Linked DNA regions of Homo sapiens: region 1 is linked to region 2. Evidence: fine-mapped expression QTL. Tissue or cell type: T cells. Region 2 holds a variant in brackets; the other region holds the start of a gene. All regions are shown on one strand. Distances are between the middles of the regions.

What was found. PIP is the estimated chance that this variant, and not a neighbour inherited with it, causes the effect.
Region 1: TRDMT1 starts here. The variant in region 2 is fine-mapped to the expression of TRDMT1 in T cells (TOPMed, PIP above 0.99). The same link has a PIP of 0.9 or more in testis.

Annotation. Positions count from the first base shown.
Region 1 is chr10:17,198,394-17,206,578 of GRCh38, forward strand. TRDMT1 (tRNA aspartic acid methyltransferase 1) reads right to left here and starts at 3,279. Exons shown (of 11, transcript NM_004412.7): 1 at 3,178-3,279. The coding sequence starts at 3,241. RefSeq lists a silencer at 2,917-2,976.
Region 2 is chr10:17,134,302-17,142,486 of GRCh38, forward strand. It overlaps TRDMT1 (tRNA aspartic acid methyltransferase 1), which reads right to left. Exons shown (of 11, transcript NM_004412.7): 11 at 3,035-8,185. Among named protein-coding and RNA genes, the nearest start is that of CUBN, 8.6 kb to the left of the region's middle. The variant A/C (reference allele first, on the strand shown) is at 4,375.

The DNA.
Region 1 (8,185 bases), 64 kb after region 2:
ACAACTCAAGTGTCTATCAACAGATGAATGGATACACAAAATTGTACAGCTATACAATGGAATATTATTCAACCACAAAAAGAACTGAGATATTGATACAGGCTACAAAATAAATGAACTTTGAAGACATTATTCTAAGTGAAATAAGCCAGACACAAAAGGACAAATGTATTATTCTACTTATGTGTGGTACGCAGAGTAGACAAGTTCATAAAGACAAAGCAGAATCAAGGTTACCAGGGACTGGGGGGAAAGGGAATTTGGAGTTATTGTTTAACAGGTACAGAGCTCTGTTTGAGATGATTAAAAAGTTTTAGAAATGAACAAGGGTGATGGTTGCACAACATTGTGAATGTACTTAATGCCATTGAACTATACATTTAAAAATAGTTTAAATGATACATTTCATGTTGTGTTTTACCACAATAAAAAAATTCCATTATGAACCTTATCTAGAAATCAGTCAAAAATGAAGTTCAATATTATTCCTTTTGTGCTGCTTATTATATTATTTAATGTATAGATCCAAGGAAGTTAGTAGTTCTAACCAGAACAACGGCAACATAGCATAGTTAAAAGGTCAGGTAGGTAGACCTAGGTTAAAATACCAGTTCTACCGCTAACTAGTTTATTACATACTTAAAAAAGGACCTGAATTTAAAAGATCCCTAATAAACACTAAAGTTAGCTGCTGTTATTAGTCTTTATTATTATATTAAAAACCACCTGGAAAGGAGCAATGCATTTTATTACAGGTAAATTTTAAACTTTAGTACATCAAATAAGTGAACATGGGAAGGCAAACAAGTGTGGAAAAATATTTGCATCAATATGATTAAGAGTCTATATCCCTAATATGCAGATTTCCACCGAAAAGATGAGAGAGCAGAGAGGTACAGGGAGGCAGGAAAGTTGCTTTGGATCACAGGGTCAGCCAGGGAAGGCCAATATATGAACTAAGACATGAAATGTGAACCGAAGCTAGAGTGAAAAAGTCTGGGGTTAGGGAGCACTCTGGATGAGGCAACAGCAAAAGCAAAGGCCAGAACATCGAAGAACTTCGAGGGTTTGAGGAGTAGAGAGAAAGAAAAACAGTAAGCCTCGACAAGAAAGGCTGAGGAAAGAATTCAGGGAATCGTTTAATTAGAATTTCAGCTTTGGGTGTTGACGGTGAAGCGGGATGCTGAAGGGAGAGTGGCAGATAAAATTGAAGAGAAGACAGAAGCCAGAACTCACAAGCCTGTTAAGATGGGACTGTGATTACAATCTCAAAAGCAACCATTTAAGCAACGAAGTAACATGATCTGGTTTACTGTGCAAATGATCATGCTGCCTGCTAGAAGGAAAACGGAGTAGGGAGGCAGAATGGAAGTAAGGAGAGAAGCTGGGAAGCTATGTTAATAATTTAAATTACAGAACTTAATAGCTTGGATTCACAACAGTAGAACTGGCAATAGAAAAACGTGTACAAATTCACATTGCATTGGCTAATAGGAGAGAAAATATTTTACTCTTTCATTAATCCCAAAACTGTCACTTAAAATTACACAATTTCCCCTAACAAATTAGCAAGGATTAAAAATTGATAATACATATCCCTGATGAATATGTAGTTAAGGCACTCAAAAATCTCTGAAAAGCAATTTGCTATCCTCTCTCTCAAAAGCCTTAAAAATTCTGTTTTTCACTTAGTAACTAGCACACAGTTAAGTCTTACTGTTGAATTAATTCCAACAGTTAGTAAACATGCTTAAAGAGAAAATCGGCATTATGCTCAAGAATGTAACTGTAGCACACTGTACTTGCAAAAAAACTGAAGAATGATCTAAATATTCGACACTTAAGGAATGGCTGAATTACAGCTTATGATAAAGTACTAAGCAATTCATTAAGGAGTTTCAAGATATGGGAAAACGCGGACATTATATCACTTTAGAGAATTAACAAAGAGTAAATAGTACTAGAGTTTTGCTTTGATGCTGCTAAGTTTTAAAATGAGAAATAAAGATAGCCGGCAAACAAGTACTAAAAACTTAATGATCATTAACCTAGTCTAGAATTGAAACTCAATAAATCTGCTCAAAAAACTTATACGCTAAACCCATTAAATATTGTCTGTATCTTACAGTTACTCTTGTTACTCTTGGTCCTAAATAAGGAAGCAGGGAAGTTTCAGTTCGGTGGTTGTCTTAGTAATTTAAGAATAAACATGCACCTTCAAAGCCTGTTTGTCATTCTGTATCCCCAGCTCCTAGCACAAAATCTGGCACAGAATAGGAGCTCAATAAATAATTTTGAGTGAATATCACCAAAAGTAAAACTTTCAGTTCCAACTCAGCATGAAAGAAATCAAAAACCTCAAAATCAAAGACGTGCATAAAAGTAATAGTTTGCTTGATAATATCTCGTGATGTCGTTTTAAAGTAATAGTGATAATAATGTATAATATTTGGAGTGGTTACAATGTATCAGGCACTAACAAGCACTTGACAGACTTTAATCCTTATAATAATCATTCTCTTTTAAAACCAGGAAACAGGTTCATCACTGTTCACGAAGTAGCCCAACGTCACACTGCCACCAAGCTGGAACTCAGTTCTCTGGCATCTAAACGCAGAACTACAGAAGACACGTTTCTTTCCAACGATCAGACGTCCAAGTTCTTCAAGCTTCCTCTACCATCCTATTTAGCATTCGCAAACTTCTACCTTGAATTGTAGCTATTATCCCTTCCAAGATCCATCTCTCACCAGGGGAGCCCCTGACACTCCCTCCCTCCCCAGCTGGGAAGCCCCCCAGGATGAAGGACCGAGTCTCCATGCTTCTCGGTGGCTGCACACTTAGAATGGGGGCTTGGCACCAGGCGAGGGTCTCGCCCCTTTGATACCCTTTGAGGTTGATTTACTGCCTTGCGAATCCCGACTCCCAACTGGGCCCTTTGAGGCGCCATGTGCGGCCCCTCGAGCCAGACTCGGCGCCAGGAGAAGGGAGTCAGCGTCTGGAGGGGTGGACACGGCGGCGCGCAGGAGCTGTTTCCAGGACAACCGAGGGCCGCCCCACAGTGTCCGCCCCACAGTGTCCGCCCCTTGCGTCTCGCCGCTCCGCCCCTTCCCGGCGCGGGTGCTCCAACCAGCCCCCGTGAGCGAATAGAGAGAGGGGTGCTAGATGGACTCTCACCTCTCAGCGCGTGGTGCATGCCGCCCACGCCGCTGTATAGCTCCAGCACCCGCAGGGGCTCCATCCCCGCGCCTCAGCCGCCGCAGCCCCGGAGCTAGGCCTGCCGGTCCGTCGCTCCTCCTCCCTCCATCGCGCCGCTCCCTCAGCCTCTGGTTCCGCGGCGTTTCAGTTCCCCCGTCTCCTACCGCTCCAGGCTCAGGGCTTCAGAGGGCCTCGCGGCCTGGGGATTGGCAAGGGTCTAGAGGGGAACAAAGGACGGAAAACAATAAGGCTTCCCGAATGAATGGCAGCCACTCTGTAGCCTGATTTACGCTCCATTTCCTTCTTTGGTGTCAGGGGCCTTGATTGGAAAAGAAATCCAGAGTTCAGTAAAGGGGAGAAAACTGCCTTGGTTTCCAAGTGAATTAACACTGGTTAGAAGCCAGAAAAAAATCATTTTTCAGACAAGCTGCTTTTCTGTCACTTAGAAGCCTGAACATTCAAACATTCTTTCCACAGTGTGCCTTGTTTCCTGCCTGCCCTGGGTCAATAGAGAGAAATTAGACCAGCCTCTCCCCTAGAGAAGATTCCAGAATTATAAGTAAGGACACAAGTCCACTCGCAGCAGAGAAAGCCCTGTGTGCGTGCTGATAATACAGAGGATGTTTGTTGTGTCTATTAGTGGGGTTAATTATGTTTTAGCTTGGAAATTACACCTACATAGAATACACAGTGAATATCATGTAGGATTATTTATGGGTCTTTAAGTGCTATGGCCTTGATTCCTCAGGATGATCCAGTAACCAACTGTTAGAGGCTCATGTTGACGAAAAAAGCCAAACTCCGTAAAATGTTTGAAGAGGTTTATTCTGAGCACAAGGTGAGGACCGTGACCCATGACACAACCCCACAGGGTCCTGACAACATGTACCCAAGGTGGTTGGGCTACAGCTTGGGATTATATGGTTTTAGGGAGACATAAGGACATTAACTGGTATATGGAAGGTGTACTTAGTTTGGTCCATAAAGATGGGACAACTCAAAAAGGGGAAGGATTCCAGGTTACAGGTGGATTCAAAGATTTTCTGATTGGCAGTTGGTTGAAAGAGTTAAGTTGTGACCTAAAGACCTGGAATCAATAGAAAGGAATGTGTCTGGGTTAAGATAAGGTGGAGACCAAGGTTCTTATTATGTAGACGAAGTCTCATACGTAACAGGCTTCAGAGAGAATAATTGGCAAATGTCTCTTATCATGTGTAAAAAGATGCCAGACTCTTAGTTAAATATCTCTTGGATCAGGAAAAGACCTGGAAAGGGAAAGGGAGTCTCTATAGAATGTAGATTTTCCCCACAAGAGATGGCTGTGTAGGGCCATTTCAAAAAGTGTCAAAGAAATTTATTTTAGGGTAAAATGCTTTGATTTAGGGCCTGCTATCTTTCATGTGATGCTATACTAGAGTCATGTTGGAATTTTGGTATCTTATTGCTAAGAAGAGTCTGTTATGTCGGTATGAAGATCTCTTGTTTTAATAATAATACTGGTCAGTTGTGCCTGAACTCCAAAGAGAGGAAAGTATAATGAGGCATGTCTGACTTCCCTTTCCCAGCATGGCCTGAACTAGTTTTTCAAGTTTCTTTGGAATCCGCTTGGTGGAGGTGTTCAATCAGTCAGTTGGGGGGAGCTTAGAAATTTTGTGGGGGGAGCGGTGTTTACAGTCAATTATAAATAAAAATAATGTACCCATATGGAGGATAGAAAATGTTCCCGTTGTGAAGTGTTTTTCTCTTTGTTCCCAACACTGCCACAGGTTTTTGTTAGGGGGAACTTGGGGGTACCACTTGTAATAACAATAACTGATTTGTTAGAAATGTTGCATGCCTGCTAATGTAATGCTGTTAACAAATAAAAGTATAACCACTGCATCCAAATTATAACATTCACTGGTTCCTTTTGATGTGGTCTATGAAATTAACTTTTTAAATTGTACATGTGCATTGGCCACGTGCTTTGCTTTTTGTTAGTCACTTTCAGATAAGAAGAGGTGTATGGTAGAAAGATACCAGATAACTCAGCTTTAGCCCTGGCGTTGCCAGTTAACTGATTGTGTGACTTTGAGATGACCCTGGTTTCCTCATCTGTAAGATAAAGCAGAAGGGAACAGAAAGAGATGGATTGTTGAGGGTGTTTTAGTTCCAAGAAATGAATTCATGGCTGAATTCAAATTAGAAAAAATGAGACCTGATTTGGCAACGTGTTAATTATTTATTGAATTTGAAATATGTAGAAAGAAGACTTGTTACCTGCTTTAAGCAAATGTACTCTTAAACTAACTCAGCTTACAGAAACCATGTACACACTGACATATGTATAATGCATGAAGCAAACTTTTTAAATATTTATTACATATAGTACCAGAAATAAACATCAGTACATAAAATGTAAAGGGAACTATATAGTCACAGTGATTTATATATAGCCAAAAACCAATATATTAAACAAATCTGGAATTTTCAGCATTCGTGCTATAAATCAAAATAAATGTGACAAAAGACCTTACCTGTAGGGGAGAGACAGTACAGACACATGGCAGAGTTAATGAAAAATACCAACCTCCTGAGAGGAAGGAGCCTCAAACCCCTTCCCCACACAGGCTGATTACAAACTGTTTACTCTGATACTTAAGGATCTTCACGGTATAGCCCTGAACTTACTTTTCTTCCTTAACTTTTTTCTCTTCTTGAACTCTGCTGTAAATGAAACTACTTGGTGTTCCCCAAACATGCCCTTCAGTTCACTTCTCTGCTTTTGTTCTTTCCCTTCTCTAGAAATCTCCTAGACTTCTTTAAGACCTATACTTCAAGTGGAACCTTCCTTCTAGACTCCCAGCCTAAAATATCCTGACACATTGCAACTCCTAGGTCTCCCTCATCTTCTGAAATACAGATCACCCTTGTACTTGTCATTCAATCCTTCCAGTTATTCTAGCCCAATTGTCACCTCATATGTGCCACATCTTTATGTATTATTTCCTCTCTGAGGCTTATCTCGTGATAATTATTTCAAGAATGAAAACTCTCTCCATAATCATAATTTACAACTATCTCCATGGAAGCATCTGTAGATATTAGGCCCCCTGGGATTATGTATGCAAATGTCTTCCAATCACTGGCACAAATTACATGATTTGGTGGAAGAGTGGGAGGGCTGGTGGAGGTGGTACAATAGGGAGTAGCTGAGGAGAAAAGTGAGGTGAGCAGAATGAAAGTAAATATTGATTACTTTTTCCGAAAGCAAATCCCGAAGGCTCATAAGAGAGAAGAAAAACTCTCTAGTCCCATAATTTCCCATAAAGTCATCCTCAATGATATGTACAATACTATTTATATTTTAATTAGAGAAACTAGACATACTTTTAAAAAAGCAAGCAAATATCAAAACTGGAATGTTAGTATATTTACTACATTTTCTCTAAAAGCAGAAAATGCGTTTCTTTAAAAAAAAAACACATTAATTAACACCTGGAAAATAAAGGCACATATAAAGCATATCAGAAATAATTAAGGGGCACATCACAATACTAAGGACCATAGTAAAAGAGTAATAGCACACACTCAATTATTGAAGGCACTGGGCTTGGAATCTAATGACATTTTTATCTTCTACCCTTATGTGTTCTTTCACTGATCATTAATATCTAATTAAATGAAATAAAGTTTTCCAAGTGCTGAAAATGCTTTTTCAATCATCTTTGAATTTCCGTGATCCAGGCCACTCTCTTTCTCAGCAAAACATGATGTGGATTCCTATACAGGCTCGCTTACAGTCTGAGGACACCCTGCTTATGCCAATTTCAGTCATGAATAAGTTGCATTCTGGCTTTATACCAAAAAAGAAGGTCTTTATGAATTGAATGGAAAAAGAAAAAGTCATATGAGAAGAAACTGACTATAAGAAATGTCCTCAAGAGAGTAAATTTTACAAATTTGAATTGGAAAGACCAACAGAGCTCATTTACCACTTCTGAGCTCCCACTTATTTGAGAATGCCTTCTACTATTTTCCTGATCCATGGGCAATAAGCCTCAGCTTGCAAACTGCTAATGAAATGTTTCATGGTGAACAGCTGGAATTATTAGAAAATTCTTCCTTATAGTCTCCTAAATTCCAGTTTCTTTTAGATTTGCCCTCTGCACTGATTTTAAAGAATTATTCCTCTTCTGGCTGGGCACTGTGGCTCATGCCTGTAATCCCAGCACTTTGGGAGGCAGAGGCGGGTGGATTACCTGAGGTCAGGAGTTCAAGACTAGCTTGGCCAACATGGCGAAACCCATCTCTACTACAAATACAAAAATTAGTCGGTTGGGGGCTGGGTGAGGTGGCTCACACCTGTAATCCCAGCATTTGGGAGGCAGAGGCGGGTGGATCACCTGATGTCAGGAGTTCGAGACCAGCCTGACCAACATGGTGAAACCCCGTCTCTACTAAAAATACAAAAATTAGTGGCTCATGGTGGTGCATGCCTGTAATCCCTGCTCCTCGGGAGGCTGAGGCAGGAGAATCACTGAACCTGGGAGGCAGAGGTTGCAGTGAGCCAAAATTGTGCCATTGCACTCCAGCCTGGTCGACAAGAGTGAAACTCCATCTCAAAAAAATATATATATATTTTTTCTCTTCTATAATGATTTGCTTTGTGGTTAAGAATGCAAGCTTCAGAGCCACAGTGTAGACAGGAAGCACACGTCTGCTGCTGCTTCTCCCTAGCTAGGTGACGTGGAGAAAGTCACTACATCCTTTTTTGAGCCAAAGTGCACCTCTAAAATGTATAAATAATAGGACATGCAGTTGCTATGAAGATTAAAAGCCCTTAGCCCGGTGCCTAGCACAATACAAATAAATGTATGTTAAATAAAGAGTGCCTGTGCAATGACATCCTCTAAGTGATGCATTCTCAGTCCTGTCGGCTATGAACTATCACTTGGCATGATTCAGATCCCTCGCATTAGTCACAGTCCAGCTTGGTGATACCCAT
Region 2 (8,185 bases):
GAACACTGATAACATTAATGGCATGTTGTAGACTTTAAGTTTATAATGGTGTCTGCTGTACTGTTGATTTCCACTCATCAGCCTTTACTCTCTTTGACTTCTTCAGCAAGACACATGCAAATGTATTTTGCATTGTTGCTGATACCATACATGGTACATGGAATGAGGGTGGTATCCAAATGTTCAGTGTACTGCTCATCCATAATTCATGACCTGCTGACTTCTGCTCCGGTCCTGTCGCATGGTCTCACCTTTCTCTTTCTTCCTCATCCTGGCTCCACAGCCTTTCTCACTGAAGTCTTAGCTCCCTTCTCTCCCTCCCTCCCTCCTTCCAAAACCACCTGAAGGTGGTTGTAAGAATCAGAATGAACTACTCCTTTCTCCTGTTTTTTATGTTTTTCAAGATATCTCTGTGCAACCTTTTCTCCTTCTGTGACATTCACTTCTCCTCCCTTTATATTCTGAATGCTCAGTTCTTTGCTCCTCCTTTAAATAATTCCCACAGACTTCACAAATAAAAATTCCTGTGGTCATCAAAAACATACATGAAAGTTAATCCCAGTATACTAGAATTTCATATGAGGGGAATTTAAGGTTAAGAAGGGGTCATGGTAATCAGAATATGGCTAAGGACAAAAACAGAGGTTGGGGGAGGGGGAGGGAGAGAGAGAGAGAGAGAGAGAGAGAGAGACCTTTATTGGAGAACAATGGAGGAGAGAATTAACTCTGCCTGGAAGGGGAATGCAGGCTTCCCAGGAGTCCATCTGAGTAGTTCCCAGGTAGAATAGTAGAGTGAGGAGTTTCAGGCAGAGTAATGGTGTATACAAAGCTTTTCAGTAGAAAGTAGCTCAGCAGGGCTACAGCAGTGTCTATATGTGGGAGATGAAGTTTTAAAAATGAACAGGAAGCCAAATCAAGAAGGACTTTGAAATATCATTTTAATGAGCTTAGATTTTATTTACTTTTAATACTGCAGAATTATGAGAGTCTCTTAGGGAAGAGATTAACATGGTCATGTTTGCATTTTACAAGCAACCCTGTGGAGCCATGTCTGAGACCCAGAGTTGGTAAGGAGGTTAGAGTACATGTTTCCCCCCGCAGATGGAGTCTCACTCTGTCACCCAGGCTGGAGTGCAGTGGCGTGATCTCGGCTTACTGCAACCTCTGCCTCCTGGGTTCAGGCAATTCTCCTGCCTCCACCTCCTGAGTAGCTGGGATTGCAGGCACACACCACCACACCCGGCTAATTTTTGTATTATTATTAGAGACGGGGTTTCACCATGTTGGCCAGGGTGGTTTCGAACTCCTGACCTCATGATCGGCCCGCCTAGAGTACACTTAAAGAGATGTGACCTGGGGAGCCTTAAGGCAATGGACAGTCAGATGAGGAGACAGTGAGAAAGATATTCAGAAAACAGGCTACAGAAATACTTGGGTAGTTAATATTTCATTAGAACTATTAGAGGGGGAAGTTGGCCGGGTGCAGTGGCTCATGTCTGTAATCCTGACACTTTGGGAGGCCGAGGCAGGCAGATCACTTGAGGTCGGGAGTTCAAGATCAGCCTGGCCAACATGGTGAAACCCTGTCTCTACTAAAAATACAAAAATTAGCTAGGCGTGGTGGCGGGCACCTGTAGTCCCAGCTACTCAGGAGGCTGAGGCAGGAGAATCACTTGAACCTGGGAGGCGGAAGCTGCAGTGAACCATGATTGCACTATGCACTACTGCACTCCAGCCTGGGCAACAGAGGGAGACTCTGTCTCAAAAAAAAAAAAAAAAAAAAAAGAACAGAGGTTTCTTGCTTGGAAAATTGGAATTGGAAGGAAAGAGATGTCATTAATTGAGTAAGAGAATAATCAGGGGAAGAAGATTTTGGAGGAAAGATAGTTCAGATTTGGATACATAGAGCTCTAAGGAATATCAACCACTCTGCTGCTTCACAGGCCTCACTCTCTGCAAGTGGTTTAACCATCTAAGATGGGAGTGGGGAAGATGTAGAGATGGCGTAGACTAGAACCTTGCTACTCCAAGTGTGGTCCACAGACCCAGCACAGGCGTCACTCAGGAGCGTGTCAGAAATGCAAAATCTCAGGTGCTACTGCCAACCTGCTGAATTAGAATCTTCATTTTACAAAGATCCTCCTCCCTGCCAATTATCTGTACACTCATTAAAGTGACCTAGGAGCACAAAGACACCTTCACTCATGACGAGAGTCAAGTGGTCCCTGCCATTGCGTCTGCATTTCCATTTCTACATTTTTCTTAGATTGATTCTCCAATTTTTAAATAATTTTCTATTTTCCACCTCTTTGTCTTGTTTTGTTATACTTTCTGAGAAAGTATTTATCTTTTAATTTTCTAGTAATTTGTTTTAAAATGTTGCTATCATTTTAAATTTGAAAACCCCTTTTTTGATTTTTGCTCTTGTTTCGTAGTTGTAACATCATCTAGTAATTTTTAGATAGTTGCTTTTTGATGTTTTCTTGTTTCCTGTATGGGCTCTGTTTTCTCTAAGTTGTTTTTCTCCCATTTGTTTGCTGGTTTAGGTCTTTCTAATTCATGCTAGAGGCTTTCCTCAAATACCTATGGATCCTTATATGTTCATTGACATTTAAAAATAACACATTACAGAATGGATGGTAGGCTCTGTGTGCATGGGTGGCGATTATAACTGGTAGGCTTTGCCACAGAGCAACCGAATGGCAAACTGACAATTTCACTGGGGAACCCCAAATGCCCATCTTTGAAGGCATCTTGCCCTGGAGACGTTCAGAAAAAAATTCTCCAGTCTTCTACCTGGACTAGTAGAGGTGACTGGAGATTTTATACTAAGTGTACAGACTTTACTTACCCTCTTATTTTCTGTATTTTTCTCCAAATTCTTGAAGAGCATCTCATTGCCACATTAGTATATTTCACTGCTGTTTTTTATACCAATGTTCACTTTTTATTCCTACCAGCTTTATCTAAATTCCATTGTTTTAGAGGCTTAATAAGCATTTAGTGAAGACATACGAAGTCCTTGACCATGGGGGAAATTTGAAAGAAGTAAATTTATTGACCTTCTCTGATTTACAATAAAGTCGTAATGTACAAATCTGGAGAGCCAGAGTTAGGCAACATTACAAAGACAAGTGTGACAAGATGGCACAGATACACAGTAGCATGCTGTTAAGTAAACAGCAGGTACCAAACTAGGAAAGATGTCCAAGGCCCAGTATGGGCACACTATAGAAAGTGGTTCCACTGGCCGGGCTCAGTGCCTCGTACCTGTAATCCCAGCACTTTGGGAGGCCAAGGCGGGCTGATCATTTGAGGTCAGGAATTTGAGACCAGCCAAAATGGTGAAACCCTGTCTCTACTAAAAATACAAAAAAATTAGCCGGGCATGGTGGCACACACCTGTAGTCCCAGCTACTCAGGAGGCGAGGCTGAGGCAGGAGAATCGCTTGAACCCAGGAGGTGGAGGTTGCAGCAAGCCGAGAGCCACTGCACTCCAGCCTGGGTGACAGAGCGAAACTCTGCCAAAAAAAAAAGAAAAAAAAAAAAAGGTTGTTCCACTTGTCCAGCAGGGTGACCTTGAAGGAAAGTGGCTGGGTAAAGGAAGAGACATCGACAGAAGGCCTTAAGTGGCAGGTTAAAGAATGTTGATTTAATCTTTTTAATAGGGGGATGTTCTTTTATCTTGAGTGCAATAATCCTTATGTGATATTTCTGCTAGGCCAGCTGAATTTATCTGGAGGACTGGATCAATGTGGGAGTCATAAAAATGAGGAGAGGGTTGAGATGCAGAGGTGCGTTGGAGGATGGACAAATTGGCAAGATTCTCACACCCCTAATGCTAGCTCCCATTACATGTTATAGCTTCAATCTGGCTTTTGTGCTTTTTTTAGTCCCTTTTCATTTTCATATCAGTTTAAAACAGAACACTGTAGAATTAATCTGGTTTTTAGTCATTAATGGAAACATTTGTGAATATAACGATCTTTTAACCTTCATGACACTTAATTCATTCTCTTTTTCAGGGACGTAACATTGCTTAAAAGATACATTTACATATGTCAGTTTTGTGATTTTCTGCAAAATTTCAGGGCAATATAACATTGTTCCAATTCTTTCATTTTCCATGAAGGATTACATAAAATAATGATGGAAATCAAGGTACATTTAAAACTATTCTTTTGCTCATTTCATGGGAAGTGCATTACCATGTAGGAAATTACCAAGTCTACTACTGTGATGAACTGATCTTTTTGAAAGCAGTGTGGTCTTGGCTCAAGGCACATAAAGCAGACATTTGTTCTCCATGCTCATTATTACAATGACTACAATTATCTTTGAGTAGAATGAAAAAGAATTATGAGTTAATCATTA[A/C]CATTTAAATTGCTGAGGTTTGGCAGAGCTTTTCCTGAGAAAGCAGATTGTTGAGAGTTTGGAGAACTTTTCCACTTTTTTCAAGTTTTTTTTTTTAAGTAATATAATCCCTTCATAAACAATGAGAAAAAAATAACGAAATTCAAATCCAGAGGGACAAACGCAATAGGGGAATAGGGCTTTGGAGGAGGAGCACAGGGGTGTTCGTGGCACATGTATACACACGTGTGCACACACAGCTTCCTAATTGTAACTCAAGCAAATGTTACAGAAAACATAAAATATGCACTGGAGGGTCTCGCATCATTATAAGGATCAGCCATAGCAGAGGAGATACTAATTGCTAGGATTAAAGGCTCCAAAAGCTAGTAAAAAAATCAACAGAGCTTTCTCTACCTCCAACAGCTCCCGGAATGGGGACTTCAGCAGCTCCATTGGATTAATCCAAGCTTGGTTTCCAAGGTGTGAAGCAATGAAGCGGAGTTTACCATAGGTGAACCCTCCTGCCATCCTGTTCCAAATCAACCTAAAAAGGACAAAATGAGTTTTCTACTTGGTGACCCCTAAAATTCCCCAAACAAGGCGGTGAAGTTAAATATTTAGACACCATTCATACGATAATCAAAGGAAAATGTCTGATTGCACTCAGACTTCAGCATGAATGACAGAAGAAATGTAGGTGGTAAATAACTGCAAACAACTTATATTGGATCTGATCTTAGGAAAAGGGGAAAGTACATCTTTGTGATGATATTTTGTGTTCTATTAGGGGAGGAGAGCAAGAGAGGTGAGGATGTCACCACCGATGGGGGGAAGAAAAAAACAGTTTGGTTCTCTTCTGGGAAGGAAAATGAAAAAAAAGAAAAAGAAAACAAAGTTTGGGGATACCTGGCACTCTTCAGACTCTGCCTCTTGTACCTTTAATTGGGAAGATAGACGCAGAAGCAGTACACACAGGCATCTTTATCTTGTGAGAGGAAGCTTTGCATTACGGATGTGATTTACGGTTAGAGGAGTGATTTAACAAGGCTGATGCCTTACAAAGGGGCATCATTCCCAGGGGATTTGTTAATTGAAGTGCCACATAGATCTGTGGGAAGATTTAAGGTGTTGTCATCAATGGCAGAAAGGATGAGATGACCTCACTTCTGTCTTTTTCAATGCCGTTATTCTAAGATCTATAAAAAACAACACCTTTGTATGCTTTCTTTATAGTGACTTGGACCATATTTGTTACGGAAGTACTGCTAAATCAAGCTTTGTCAACAATTCCTAGACTATGTTTAGAAGAGACATAAACAATACCCTAGGAGTTATACACAATTTTGGCATTAAATATTCTTCCAGTAACATCTAGTGTGCTTTTTTTTTTTTTTTTTTTTTTTTTTGAGACAGAGTCTTGCCCTGTCACCCAGGCTGGAATGATGCAATGGCACGACCTCGGCTCACTGCAACCTCCGCCTCCCAGGTTCCAGTGAGTCTCCTGCCTCAGCCTCCTGAATAGCTGAGATTACAGGCACATGCCACCACATCCAGCTATTTTTTTTTTTTTTTTGTACCTTTAGTAGAGATAGGGTTTTATCATGGCCAGGCTGGTCTTGAACTCCTGACCTCATGGTCCGTTCACTTCGACCTCCCAAAGTGCTGGGATTACAGGTGTGAGGCACCATGCCCAGCACTTCTTTTCTTTTTGGCTGACAGAATTATTCAAACAATCCCCCAAGCCATGAAAGAACCTACAATTCTATTACCATACTCAGCATACTCATATCTAAGTCAGTTAATTGGACAATTATTTATTAGGTACCCACTATCTGTCAGCATCTGAGAAAGGTACTGAGGATACACAAATGGGCAAGATGTAGCTTCTGCTCTGGAGGAAAAAAGTCAGCAGGGGAGGGGATTATATTACATAGCATCAAGATGCAAATGAGGTAGCAACTTACAAGCTTACAATGAACAGACTCTACAGTAAAGACTTGAAACTGAGTGTTTTGAAAGAAAGAACATTTTAAATGATAAAACTAATATTATGCCACATTGATGAAAACAAAAACAACAAAAAAGATCACATTCAATTGAAAAATATAAACAAGAAAAATTAAAATGCTATTACTCTAACATAACTGCTATCATTATTTTATTCCAATCTATTTTTAGATGAATAATTTCACAGTTATAATCATTAGCTATACGTTAGGTGTCTTCCTTTCATCTTTGATTATTTCACATATCAGATAAGCCTAATTCCATGTTAACTACCTGCTCGCCCTAATAATTGTAAAGAGCTGCATAGAGGTATATGTGTATCGATACATATATAGATAAAACAGAGATCTCTTGAAGGATAGTTTGGCTAGATATAGAATTCATAGTTGACAATGCCACCTCCTTCTGGTCCTCATGGTTTTGGATGAGACATCTACTGTCATCCAAATTGTGTCCCCCGCCCCATGGCAACGTGTCATTTTTCTCCAGCTGCTTTTATTTATTTATTTATTTTTTTGAGACGGAGTCTCACTCTGTCACCAGGCTGGAGTGCAGTGGCACGATCTCAGCTCACTGCAGTCTCCGCTCCTGGGTTCAAGCCATTCCCCTGCCTCAGCCTCCCGAGTAGCTGGGACTACAGGCATGCACCACCATGCCCGGCTAATTTTTTTGATTTTAGTAGAGACGGGGTTTCACCATGTTGGAAAGGATGGTCTCTATCTCCTGACCTTATGATCTGCCCCCCTTCGCCTCCTAAAGTGCTGGGATTACAGGTGTCAGCCACCGCGCCCAGCCTCCAGCTGCTTTTAAGGTTTTGCCAAATTTGGGATGTTTCCAGCCATTATTTAAATGCTCTTTCAGCTCCATTTTTTTCCCCTCTACTTCTGGCACCCCAAACATATAAATGTTGGTTCTTCTGTTATTGTCCCACAGGTCCCCAAGGCTCTGTTAATTTTTTTTGTCAGCCTATCTTTGCCCTATCATTTAGATCAGGTAAATTCTACTGATCCGTCCTTAGGTTCACTGATTTCTATCTTCTGTCATTTCCTCTCTACTACTGATCTCAAGTTTAGCAAAAGATATAAATGTACAGATTCAAGAAGGTGAATGAACACCAAACAGGATATTACATTCACTTTGAAATATCTGCCACTTTGAAAGAAATTCATGCCAAGACACATCATAATTAAATTTCTGAAAATAAAGTTAATGTAACAGACAAAATGTCCAGGATCTAATCAAATTATCTGTTACCACAGAATGTTTTCTATTTTGGTTATTTTTCAGTTACATAACTGCCATTTATTTCTATTCTTAAAAATTGGCATATAGTGCACCTACCATAATGGTTCTTTTGTTAACTTCTATTTCTTTGCTGAGCTTTTCTATTTTTTGTGGCAAGACAACTTGTAATTACCTGTTGAAGCATTTTTATGAGAGTTGCTTAAAATCCTTGTCAAGTAATTCCAACATCTGATTTGTCTCAGTGTTGTCATCTGTTGACTGTCATTTCTTATTCAAGTTGTGATTTTTCTGGTTCTTGGTATGACAGGCTATTTTACATCGTATCCTGAACCTTTTGTCTATTATTTTAATCTTTTATTTTTAGTAGGCAGTCACTCCATTTGTGTTTAGCATGCAAGCCCTGGCTTAGTTTTTGTGGGCTATGAGTCCAGTGGTAATTTAGTTTTTAAAGCCTTTGCAGTGTTATTTTGGTCTGCTTGGTTTATCTGGTGCTGCTGGGGTTCCCGAATGGTCCTTCATGATGCTACTTTAGGGAAAGAAGGATTTTCTCCCAAGCCAGGTCCCATGGTATCTCTGG